Linked DNA regions of Homo sapiens. The protein of the gene in region 1 interacts with the protein of each later gene in a biochemical or structural test. Each region holds a gene or a part of one and is shown on either strand. Other genes may lie near its edges.

The links.
Region 2: the proteins of NPDC1 (region 1) and TFDP1 form a complex in vitro, tested with the Homo sapiens proteins (one study listed by BioGRID).

What each region holds. Positions count from the first base shown.
Region 1 is NC_000009.12:137,038,962-137,043,208, forward strand, and holds the end of NPDC1 (neural proliferation differentiation and control protein 1 precursor), read right to left. Parts: intron 4,113-4,247; coding exon 3,966-4,112; intron 2,227-3,965; coding exon 2,101-2,226; intron 2,024-2,100; coding exon 1,853-2,023; intron 1,777-1,852; coding exon 1,710-1,776; intron 1,638-1,709; coding exon 1,553-1,637; intron 1,476-1,552; coding exon 1,396-1,475; intron 1,107-1,395; coding exon 1,010-1,106; intron 904-1,009; coding exon 811-903; 3' UTR 502-810; downstream 1-501. UniProt on the Homo sapiens protein: Suppresses oncogenic transformation in neural and non-neural cells and down-regulates neural cell proliferation. Might be involved in transcriptional regulation.
Region 2 is NC_000013.11:113,587,721-113,594,752, forward strand, and holds part of TFDP1 (transcription factor Dp-1), read left to right. Parts: intron 1-7,032. UniProt on the Homo sapiens protein: Can stimulate E2F-dependent transcription.

The sequences.
Region 1 (4,247 bases):
CATAGCTGGTATCACACAGGTACCTCTGCCTGCCATCCCTCCTCCGTGTGCTGCAGGGCCTGGCGGCCGTGGTCCCCATGAGAAACCCAGACTCAATGTCTGCATTGTTTTCCTTCTGCCTGGAGGTGGTGGGCACCCACATCCAGGTGCGTGTGGACTATCACCTGCTCCAGCCCTCTTTATCACACAGGATGGGGTCTTCCGGGCCGCAGAGCCAACCCTGGGCTGGCCCAGCCCTACACTACACCCTTCCCCTCTCCCACCTGCGTAGAAGGGTCTGCAGGGGTGAGGCCTGGCTGAGGAGGGTGGGGATGATCCCGTGGCCTCTCCTCCAGCTCCACGGGATGGGAAGGTCCTCCTAATGAGCGAACAGAAAGGCCTCCTCCCTCTGGGGGTGCAAGAGCAGACCCCAGGCCCCCCACTCAGGGGTCCGTCTACCAGGGCCCCAAATGGGAGATGAGGCGGTGGAAGATTAACCCAAGCTGGCAACACAGGCAGAAGCCGCAGGTCTGAAATGGACTTTAATTGGCTTTTGTCTCTAGAATTACCCACCCGTTCCTGCGCTCTACGGTTCTCCATGCCCCCTCCAGTTTGGGGGTCTAAACCGAACAGGAGAGGTGCAGGGGACCAGGAGGTGTCCTGGCACAAAGGTTCGGGGGTCTCCCTGGCAAGGGGTCCCAGGGCCTGGAGCCCGAGGCCCAGCCAAAAGCACACAGCATCAAAACATGTTTTTAGTGGGAAGCTCCAGGCCCTGCCCCTCCCCGGGGGCCTCGAGGTCGGGGAGCAGGTGGGCGTCTGTCTGCCTCCAGGTCATGGCAGTGCAGGCGGTGAGCTGGGGGCCGGCAGGGGCGCGGACAGTGCGGCGTGGTCGAACAGAGGGTTGCGCACCTCCATTTCCCCGGTCTGCGAATGTGGGTGTCAGGCTGGGCAGTGGGTGGGCTGGGGGGATACTTGCTGGGAGGGAACCCCAGGAGATGGTTCGCCCCTCCCTGCACCCTGAGGCACTCACCGGGGCCAGGCCCGGGCACTCGTACACCGTGAAGTCTCCGTCCTCATTCTCCTCATCCGAGGAGGCCGTGTCCAGCTCCTTGGGTGGCTCTTTATGCCTGGGTGGGGGGGGATCGCTGGGTCCTCCCCATGCCCTCGAGGTGCCAGTGGCCCAGTCTGGAAGTGGGCACTCAGCCCACCTCAGCCCTGGGGTGGCAGGGGAGCACAGCCCAGGGTGAAGTTGGCCAGGGGAGGTGAGGGTGCAGGGCGGCGGGGGAGGTGAAGGTTAGCGTGCAGGTGAGGGTGGCAGGGCCTGGGGTAAAGTTGGCCAGGGGAGGTGGAAATGGAGGTGGAGGTGGGGATGGGGGGTGGGTGGGTGGGGGTGGCAGTGCCGGGGCGGCCACTCACCGCTCCAGGCACAGCATCTGTTGCCGTTGGTGCTGGTAGTGGTACATCTCCGCGCTCTGTGCCAGCCGCTGGTCCCCAGGCTGTGGGAAGGAGGAGGCGAGGGTCAGTTGGCGGCCAGAGTTGGGCGGGAGCCTCAGGGCTGAAGGGGGCCACACACCGAGATCCGGGGAGCTGCAGGTGAGCCAGGGGCCTTCGCAGTGGCGTAGTCGGCCTTCTGAGTCAGGCGGATCTCACGCTGCAGCCTGTGGGGAGTGGGGCCTGAGACCTCTGAGCGTGTGGCACCCTCCCTGCCCTGCCCGCGGCCACTGGCTCACCTGCACCAGCAGAGGGAGGCTACGGAGAGGGCGGCTGCACCGGCCACACAGAACGCCAGGATCAGCACTGCAGGAGGGGGCGTGTGAGGGCGGCCTTCTGCAGGGCGCCCTGCTGCCCCTGCCCACCCCCGACCAAGACCTACCAAGGGCGAGGCCGTCGCCTTGCCCTCCCCGGGGCTCCAGGGGCGACATGTGCACCGGGTCGGATGACACAGGGGAGCCCAGGGAGGTGTGGGGCGTGGGCGTGGGGGTTCCTGGAGTGGAGGGGAGGCCCAGCTCCAGCCCCTGCCCCCGTGCCGAGAAGCCCAGGGTGGCTGCGAGAGAGGACAGGTTAGAATGAGAGCACTGGGCTAGGGACAGGGCCGTGGGGCAGGGGAAGCGGGGGTCTCACCAGGCTCCGGGAGCCGCTGTCGGTCCTTGGGTAGGGGCGGAGTTGAGTGTCCAGACTCCTTCCGGGCAAGCTCCTGGGCCAGGAAGTCAATCTCATCTTCCAGTCTGGGCTGGGGCCGGCCCCCGCCTGGGGAGGGTGAGGGGCCATCAGGTGGAGGGGTCCGTCCAGGAGGTAGCCCCAGGCCCGGCCTCCCCGCTTCTGGCAGGTTCCTCCCAGGAGCCTGAGGACTGGGTACACGCCTGGAGGCCCTCTCCCTCCCAGATTGCCATGGTGACAGCGCGGGCGCTTCCTGTGAGGGGCAGTGCTTCCCGGAAAGTGGAGGCAGGGCAAGGGAGGAGGCGCTAGGGAAACGTCCAAAGACCGGGCACGGGGAGGAAGGAGTGGGGTCTCTCGCCCCAACCCATGTCCATAAAGGGCTGGCCAGCACAGCCCCTTCTGCTTCCCCACCTCCAAGCACCTTCTCGGGTAGAGGGGCAGGGACTCCCCAAGGAGTGGGGGGAAGCCGAAGGAAGCCAAGCACCCGGGACCCCTCCCCAGGTCATTGGGAGAACGGGGGCAGCTGTCAGGGGTGGGGCTGGTGGCAGGGCTCCACCGGTACCCACTGTGGGCTGCACAGTCTGGGTGGACGCTCCCAGGTTGGCAGGAGGTGCATCCACACAGACCCTTACAGCCACTTCTCGGTGCTCCTCTCAACACCTCCTCCAGGAAGCCGCTGCTGCTCCCACCCCCAGCACCTCTGAGCAAAGCCCTCACCACACCTGAAGTCACTCAGTGACTGGCCATCCCGACAGATGCGGCTCAGGCTGGCGAGCGGGGCATCCCCAGCACCCAGCCAGTGCTGGCACCCTTCAACATTTGCCAACAGGCGGACAGGACAGTGAGTGGTGGAAAAGAGCAAGCTGCCTGGGGACGGGGAAGTGGGGGCCTGGAGGGCTTCTGGGCAGACCCTGCAGAGCCCAGGCCCGGGGAGAATGGGCCCTTCCTCTCCCGTGGCCATCCCAGCATTTCACATCGTGCAGCCCTTCTCCTGGGAGGGCCTGACTGCCCCAGGCCTGGGCCCACCTCCATTTGGAAAGGATGGGAGGCTTCGTGGAGAGTGAATGAGGATCTCCCAGGCCTTGGACCCAACACCCCACAAGGTCCAGGGGCCCCAAGACCACCTGGCACAGGCCTGGGCATTGAGGCTGCAGGCTGCTGCTTTTTTTTTTTTGAGGCGGAGTCTCGCTCTGCCGCCCAGGCTGGAGTGCAGTGGCGCGATCTCGGCTCACTGCAAGCTCTGCCTCCCGGGTTCACGCCATTCTCCTGCCTTAGCTTCCCGAGTAGCTGGGACTACAGGCGCCCGCCGCCACGCCCGGCTAATTTTGTTTTTGTATTTTTAGTACAGATGGGGTTTCACCGTGTTAGCCAGGATGGTCTCGATCTCCTGACCTTATGATGTGCCCGCCTCGGCCTCCCAAAGTGCTGGGATTACAGGCGTGAGCCACTGCTCCCGGCCTTCTTTTTTTTTTTTTTTTTTTTTGAGACAGAGTCTCGCACTGTCGCCCAGGCTGGAGTGCAGTGGTGAATCGGCTCACTGCAAGCTCCGCCTCCCGGGTTAAAGCAATTCTCCTGCCTCAGCCTCCTGAGTAGCTGGGACTACAGGTGTGTGCCACCACACCCGGCTACTTTGTATTTTTAGTAGAGACGGGGTTTCACCATGTTGGCCAGGCTGGTCTTGAACTCCTGACCTCATGAGATCCAACAGCCTGGGCCTCCCACAGTGCTGGGATTACAGGCATGAGCCACCGCGCCCAGCCGGCCGCTTCTTACAGGGAGAGGTTCATGCAGGGACATCCCCCCATCGACTTCCCCCTTTGCTCTCGTACCTGGAGGCCGGCGCATCCTGGGCACACAGAGCCCTTGCTGGTCCTCCTGGAAGGGCTGAAGGCAGGGCCCACAGGCATGTGCACCAGGAGGACACCTTGCCCGCCTCTTCAGGGCACAGTCCAGGCTCCCGGGACAGGCGGCTACATCTGGGAAGGAAGCAGAAGGCAGGGCCGGCTCACGGCCCCGCAGGGCTCGGCCCCTGCACACGGCAGCGCTGCCCCAGCCACCCGCCCCCGTCACCCCCCGAGCTGGCCGGGCCTGGTTCTGGCCATTGTTCTGGA
Region 2 (7,032 bases), on another chromosome or scaffold:
AACAATCCACCCGCCTTACAGGCGTGAGCCACCGCGCCCGGCCTAGCTAACTCTTTTAAGTAGAGGTGTGACATTTGAGTTTTGAAAAGATGATGTTGGCAGCTTTTGCAGAAGGGAACATCGATAACCAGTTAGGTGTTTTGTTTTTGTTTTTTGAGACGGAGTTTTGCTTGTTGCCCAGGCTAGAGTGCAATGGCGCGACCTCAGCTCACTGTGACCTTGGCCTCCTGGGTTCAAGCAGTTCTTCTCCTCAGCCTCCCAAATAGCTGGGATTACAGGCGCGCCACCACACCCAGCTAATTTTTTGTTAGTAGACACGGGGTTTCACCATGTTGGCCAGGCTTGTCTTGAACTCCTGACCTCAGGGGATCCACCCACCTCGGCCTCCCAAAGTGCTGGGATTACAGGCGTGAGCCGCTGTGCCCAGCCCACCAGTTAGGTTTTTAAAAGCACTGGTACTGCAGTAAAACCACAGGTGTATGTCAAAAGCCTTTATGCTGGGGGAAAGCTGTGCCACTTGGGTTGAAGGAGGCAGGCCTCCAGCTTCTAAGTGCCCTGGGGCCTCTGTAGAGGGCCATGAGGGGCCACAGGATGCAGGGAGCTGGAGCTAGGCCCTGGTAGTCACCATGGAGGAGGAGAAACAAGGACATCCAAGACCTGAGGCTGGAAGGTTCTGGAGAGAACACAAGAGAAAAACAACTCCGGAGCTTCCAACCTCAAGTAGGGCACAGGGAGACAAGCGGGTGGGAAAAGGCCACAAATGGCTCCATGTGAGTGAGGGGCAGAAAGAAGAGGATGAGGTCAGTCCTCTGGGGGTGTCATCTTTGAACAGCAGTTGACAGGCAGTGGGTGTGAAGGTCTATATGGCAAGGAGCTACACACGAGGGAGGAGAGAGGTACTCTGAAAAGTTTGCAGAGTGGGTAGGAAATGACTGTGGAGCAGTGAGGAGAGTGATCAGTGATGGTGTAGTAGTTAGAGAGTGAGTGGTGGTGGACTTGATGGAGAGTGAGTGGTGGTGCTGGAGTGGTGGAGAGTGAGTGGTGATGGTAGATTGGACGGAGAGTGAGTGTGGTAGACTCGGGGACAGTGAGTGGTGATGGTAGATTGGATGGAGAGTGAGTGGTGGTAGGACTGGGGGAGAGAGAGTGGTGATGGTGGTGTAGGTGGAGAGTGAGTGGTGATGGTGGAGTTGGTAGAGTGAGTGTGGTGATGGTGTTGTGGGTGGAGAGTGAGTGATGGTAGTGTTGTGGGTGGACAGTGAGTGGTGATGGTGGTAGACTGGAGGAGAGTGAGTGTGGTGATGGTGTTGTGGGTGGAGAGTGAGTGGCGGTGCTGGAGTGGGTGATGTAGGGTCACAGAAGGAGGAAACAGCCTAGAAGGTGGCTGCCTTTGATGGTCCTTGAGTGGGCCCAGCTGGAGAAATGGTGAGAAGGATTAGGTTTCTGTTGTCTTGCTCAGGGACTTTTTATTTTATTGCACTTATTTGAATTAAAATGGTAAATTCAAATGGAATATTTGTGTTTATACTCTGTTAAGTGGGAGAATGTGGAGAACAGGAGTCAGCTGCCATACGGCCACCTGGCTGGCTCCGGGAACCTGAGGCCTGGTCTTGCCCAGCAGGAGCGCTGGCATAGCATGGATCACTTACAGAAATTTATGATCAAGATTATGGGCTGCTCCTGGCAATATGGGGAGGATTTCCTTGCTGTGGGGACTGTCTGTTTCCATGCCTGGCCCACCCGGTCTGTGATAGCCTCAGGTGCAGTCCTGTCTTAAGTTTGGAGACACCCTGGGAGGTCCGTACAGACTCTTTGAGTTTCTGAACTGTCCTCGAAACATCTCAGGCCCTCCGCCTCAGGGCCTAGGGAGGCTGTCCTCTGGTTCCTGAACAGGGTGGCTCTGACCCGCAGATCTGTGGGCTCCCGTTGCAGGTACCGGTGGTGCTCGGAACCGTCCTCAGATTCAGTCTTGGAAGGTGCTTTGGCACCTCCTTAGAGTCGGACAGACCCTTGTCACGAGTCAGTCCAGCTGCAGGGGCTCAAGTTGTTCTAGAGCTGGGCTGGCAGGGCCCTTGGGTGAGGGAGTGTGGCTTGGCACTGGCATCTCAGCCTGCGGCCAAGTTTCCTGCCTGCCCAGGCAGCATGACCCTTGGTGGGATCAGGCAGAGCTCTGCCTCTCCCCTCCCTACCTCGGAACATCCTGTCGTCACACACGATTGTCCAGTGTCATGAAAGTTTGTAAGTGGGAAGGCAGGCAGATGATGAATTCATCAAACATTACAGGGATGCTTTTGCTGTAAGACTTCGGGATGTAGCCCGTGTGGGGCTGTTTCTGGGGTCCCGTTCGCCTCTCCAAGCTCCTCCTGCCATTGGTAAAGATGCAGGGCATCTGAACTCGCTCTTGGGCTGTGCGGGCACTTGGACCTGGTCAGCTCCCTGTGCAGAGAACGTGGCTGTGGACGTCACTGCCCGGTATTCACGTGCCTTGGTTGTGAAAGCCGTTCTGTGGTGCCTGTTTGTGTCCTGTGAGTTTATGGGGAAATCCTGAAATTGAGAGCTGGGGACCAAGAGAACTGTGTGCGTCCCACCATGGAGGCGTTTGAGTGATGCTGTCACGAGGCTCTGCTAATGCCAAGAGGGGACCAATGAGCTCCTCTAAGGGTCTACCACCAGGTGTCCTTTTACAGACCTGGATGGTGAAGTTCAGGCCTGAAGAGGTGAACCTGATGCAGCAACAAACTGCTGTTTCCTTCAGTGCTTGAAGGAGTGAGTTCTGGGAACAGGATTCAGCGACTCAGGCCTTCTTTTGTCCTCATAAAGAAACAACTTTACATTTGAGGTTAAGAAGGTTGTCAGTTTAGCCCCCTCAGGTTTAAGTGTTGAAGAAATCTATGATGACGTGCTTGTTTTTACAAGAGTCTTTTCATATTTCAGGATTTTTTTTTTCTACATAGGATGAGGTTAGAGAAACTCTGAAGGGATATTAAAAATTAGAAAATTATAGGTTGGGCCGGGCGCAGTGGCTCACGCCTGTAATCCCAGCACTTTGGGAGGCCGAGGCAGGTGGATCACAAGGTCAGGAGATTGAGACCATCCTGGCTAAGAGGGTGAAACCCCTTCTCCACTAAAAATACAAAAAATTAGCCAGGCATGGTGGTGGGCGCCTGTAGTCCCAGCTACTGGGGAGGCTGAGTTAGGAGAATGGCGTGAACTCGGGAGGCGGAGCTTGCAGTGAGCAGAGATCACGCCACTGCACTCCAGCCTGGGCGACAGAGCGAGACTCTGTCTCAAAAAAAAAAAAAAAAAAAAAGAAAAAGAAAATTATAGGTTAATTAAAAGTTTTGCCCCTGCTGGGCACGGTGGCTCATGCCTGTAATCCCGGAGGCCAAGGCGGGTGGATCACCTGAGGTCAGGAGTTCGAGACCAGTCTGGCCAACATGGCAAAACCCTGTCTCTACTAAACATACAGAAATTAGCTGGGCGTGGTGGCGGGCGCCTGTAATCCCAGCTACTCTCGAGGCTGAGAAGGAGAATCGCTTGAACCCGGGAGGCGGAGGTTGCAGTGAGCCGAGATCACGCCATTGCACTCCAGCCTGGGTGACAAGAGCAAGACTTCATCTCAAAAAAAAAAAAAAAGAAAAAAGTTTTGCCCCTAAAACATGCTTTAAAAGAGGTATTATAGGAACATCTGGTATAAAATTCAAAGAATAAAAAAGGACATCTTTTTTCTTACATAATCAGCTCTTTGTTAGCTCTTTACTTTTGGTATTTGGAAGAAATCTCTGGAGTTCGTTGTGTAAGAATTGGAAACCTCACCTTTGGTGCACAGCTCGATTTGCAGTAGAAGTATCAGGTGCTCTTTAGGGGATGTTAAAAACTTTTCACTCTTGGTATTTACATTAAAAAATACTTTGTTGTAGAACAATTAGAAAATCCAGATTTGCAGTTGATATTTAGCTTGACTTACAGTGTGGCTTTCTGCTGTTTGTCATAAGAGACTAGATTTGTCAAGTTTTGCTTAGAGAGGAGGACTGGTAGCAGCAGGTGGCTTAGACTACGTGTGGGGATGGATCTGCGAGGGGAAGGGCAGATGTCAGCGTTGGCTGAATTAGAGGCTGAATTAGGTGACCCCTCATCCCCCAGGTGTCTTACTCAGATGATTCTGGTTGTTCGGGTACTGGCCATGCACTGCTCTCTGTATCTTTGTGTGTAGCCCAAGCCTGGAAAAGCATCCGCCCTTTGTACCTTTTTCCCGACTGGCTGAGATTCCCGCAGCATCCCGACTCCGCTTCAGGGCTCCTGTGAGGACAGGGACTATGGCTTTTAAGTTGTCGCACAGGTCATGGGCACTATTCACATGTGCTGCAGGTAATTTTGAGACTCAAGGATGAAGAGTTATATCTGCCTCTTCCCGTTAGTCTTTTATGTGAATCCTGTTTGTTTGTTTGTTTCGAGACGGAGTTTCGTTCTTGTTGCCCAGGCTGGAGTGCAATGGCACGATCTTGGCTCACCACAACCTCTGTCTCCCGGGTTCAAGCGATTCTCTGACCTCAGCCTCCCAAGTAGCTGGGATTACAGGCATGCGCCACCATACCCTGCTAATTTTTTGTATTTTTAGTAGAGACGGGGTTTCTTCATGTTGCTCAGGCTGGTCTTGAACTCCCGACCTCAGGTGATCCGCCCGCCTTGGCCTCCCAGAGTGCTGGGATTCCAGGCGTGAGCCACCGCGCCTGGCCATGAATCCTGTTTTTCTATGGTCCAGTTTCTAAGGGATTCTGGTCTGATGAATGAAAACCTTGTGTGTCCCCTGTGGCTTTGGGATACAGTATCTTTTAACACAGGTGCTTGCCCTGTGCACCCTGGTCTTCTGTTCATTAACATCGCGTCACTGGGGTCTGAGGAAAAGAGACAGTGTGATCCGCTCCAGTGAATGGGGAAGCAGGAGAGGGTCAGAAACCTGAATGGGTCAGCCCAGAATCCAGCATTGCCAACACATCCCTGGCCCTCCCCTCCTGCCCAGGTGACAGGTGTGGCATATGCTGGTCCTCAGCCCTGCCCAGGAGACAGTTGTGGTGTCTGTGGGTCTTCAGCCCTGCCCAGGTGACAGGTGTGGTGTGTGCTGGTCTTCAGCTGTGCCCAAGAGACAGTTGTGGTGTGCACGGGTCCTCAGCCCTGCCCAGGTGACAGGTGTGCTGTGTGCTGGTCCTCAGCCCTGCCCAGGTGACAGGCGTGCTGTGTGCTGGTTCTCAGCCCTGCCCAGGTGACAGGTGTGCTGTGCACGCGTCCTCAGCTATACACAGGTGTCAGGCGTGATGCGTGTGGGTCCTCAGCCCTGCCCAGGTGACAGGTGTGGTGTGCGCGGGTCCTCAGCCCTGCCCAGGTGACAGGTGTGCTGTGTGTGGGTCCTCAGCCCTGCCCAGGTGACAGGTGTGCTGTGTGTGGGTCCTCACCCTGCCCAGGTGACAGGTGTGCTGTGTGCTGATCCTCAGCCCTGTCCAGGTGACAGGTGTGCTGTGCACGCGTCCTCAGCTATACACAGGTGTCAGGCGTGATGCGTGTGGGTCCTCAGCCCTGTCCAGGTGACAGGTGTGGTGTGCGCAGGTCCTCAGCCCTGCCCAGGTGACAGGTGTGCTGTGTGTGGGTCCTCACCCTGCCCAGGTGACAGGTGTGTGTGCGGGTCCTCAGCCCTGCCCAGGTGACAGGTGTGCTGTGTGCTGATCCTCAGCCCTGTCCAGGTGACAGGTGTGGTGTGCGCGGGTCCTCAGCCGTGCCCAGGTGACAGGTGTGCTGTGTGTGGGTCCTCACCCTGCCCAGGTGACAGGTGTGGTGTGTGCGGGTCCTCAGCCGTGCCCAGGTGACAGGTGTGCTGTGTGTGGGTCCTCACCCTGCCCAGGTGACAGTTGTGCTGTGTGCAGGTCCTCACCCACCCAGGTGACAGGTGTGGTGTACACGGGTCCTCAGCTGTGCCCAGGTGACAGGTGTGGTGTACGTGGGTCCTCAGCCCTGCCCAGGTGATAGGTGTGGTGTGCGCGGGTCCTCAGCCGTGCCCAGGTGACAGGTGTGCTGTGCACGCGTCCTCAGCTATACACAGGTGTCAGGCGTGATGCGTGTGGGTCCTCAGCCCTGCCCAGGTGACAGGTGTGCTGTGTGCTGATCCTCAGCCCTGTCCAGGTGACAGGTGTGGTGTGTGCGGGTCCTCAGCCGTGCCCAGGTGACAGGTGTGCTGTGTGTGGGTCCTCACCCTGCCCAGGTGACAGTTGTGCTGTGTGTGGGTCCTCACCCTGCCCAGGTGACAGTTGTGCTGTGTGCAGGTCCTCACCCACCCAGGTGACAGGTGTGGTGTACACGGGTCCTCAGCCGTGCCCAGGTGACAGGTGTGGTGTACGTGGGTCCTCAGCCCTGCCCAGGTGATAGGTGTGGTGTGCGCGGGTCCTCAGCCGTGCCCAGGTGACAGGTGTGCTGTGTGCAGGTCCTCACCCAGCCAGGTGACAGGTGTGGTGTACACGGGTCCTCAGCCGTGCCCAGGTGACAGGTGTGGTGTACGTGGGTCCTCAGCCCTGTCCAGGTGGCAGGTGTCCTGTGTGTGGGTCCTCACCCTGCCCAGGTGACAGGTGTGCTGTGCACGCGTCCTCAGCTATACACAGGTGTCAGGCGTGATGCGTGTGGGTCCTCAGCCCTGCCCAGGTGACAGGTGTGCTGTGTGCTGATCCTCAGCCCTGCCCAGGTGACAGGTGTGCTGTGTGCTGATCCTCAGCCCTGTCCAGGTGACAGGTATGGTGTGCGCGGGTCCTCAGCCCTGCCCAGGTGACAGGTGTGCTGTGTGTGGGTCCTCTGCCCTGCCCAGGTGATAGGTGTGGTGTGCATGAGTCCTCAGCCCTGCCCAGGTGACAGGTGTCCCGTGTGCTGGTCCTCAGCTGTGCCCAGGCTTGGGCTGTGGGTGCCGCCCGTTCCCAGTGGACATGGAATCCTTGTGTTACTGAGTGACCTGCGTGTGCTGGTTGCTGCACCAGCGGGCTTTTCTGTCGCAGTTGC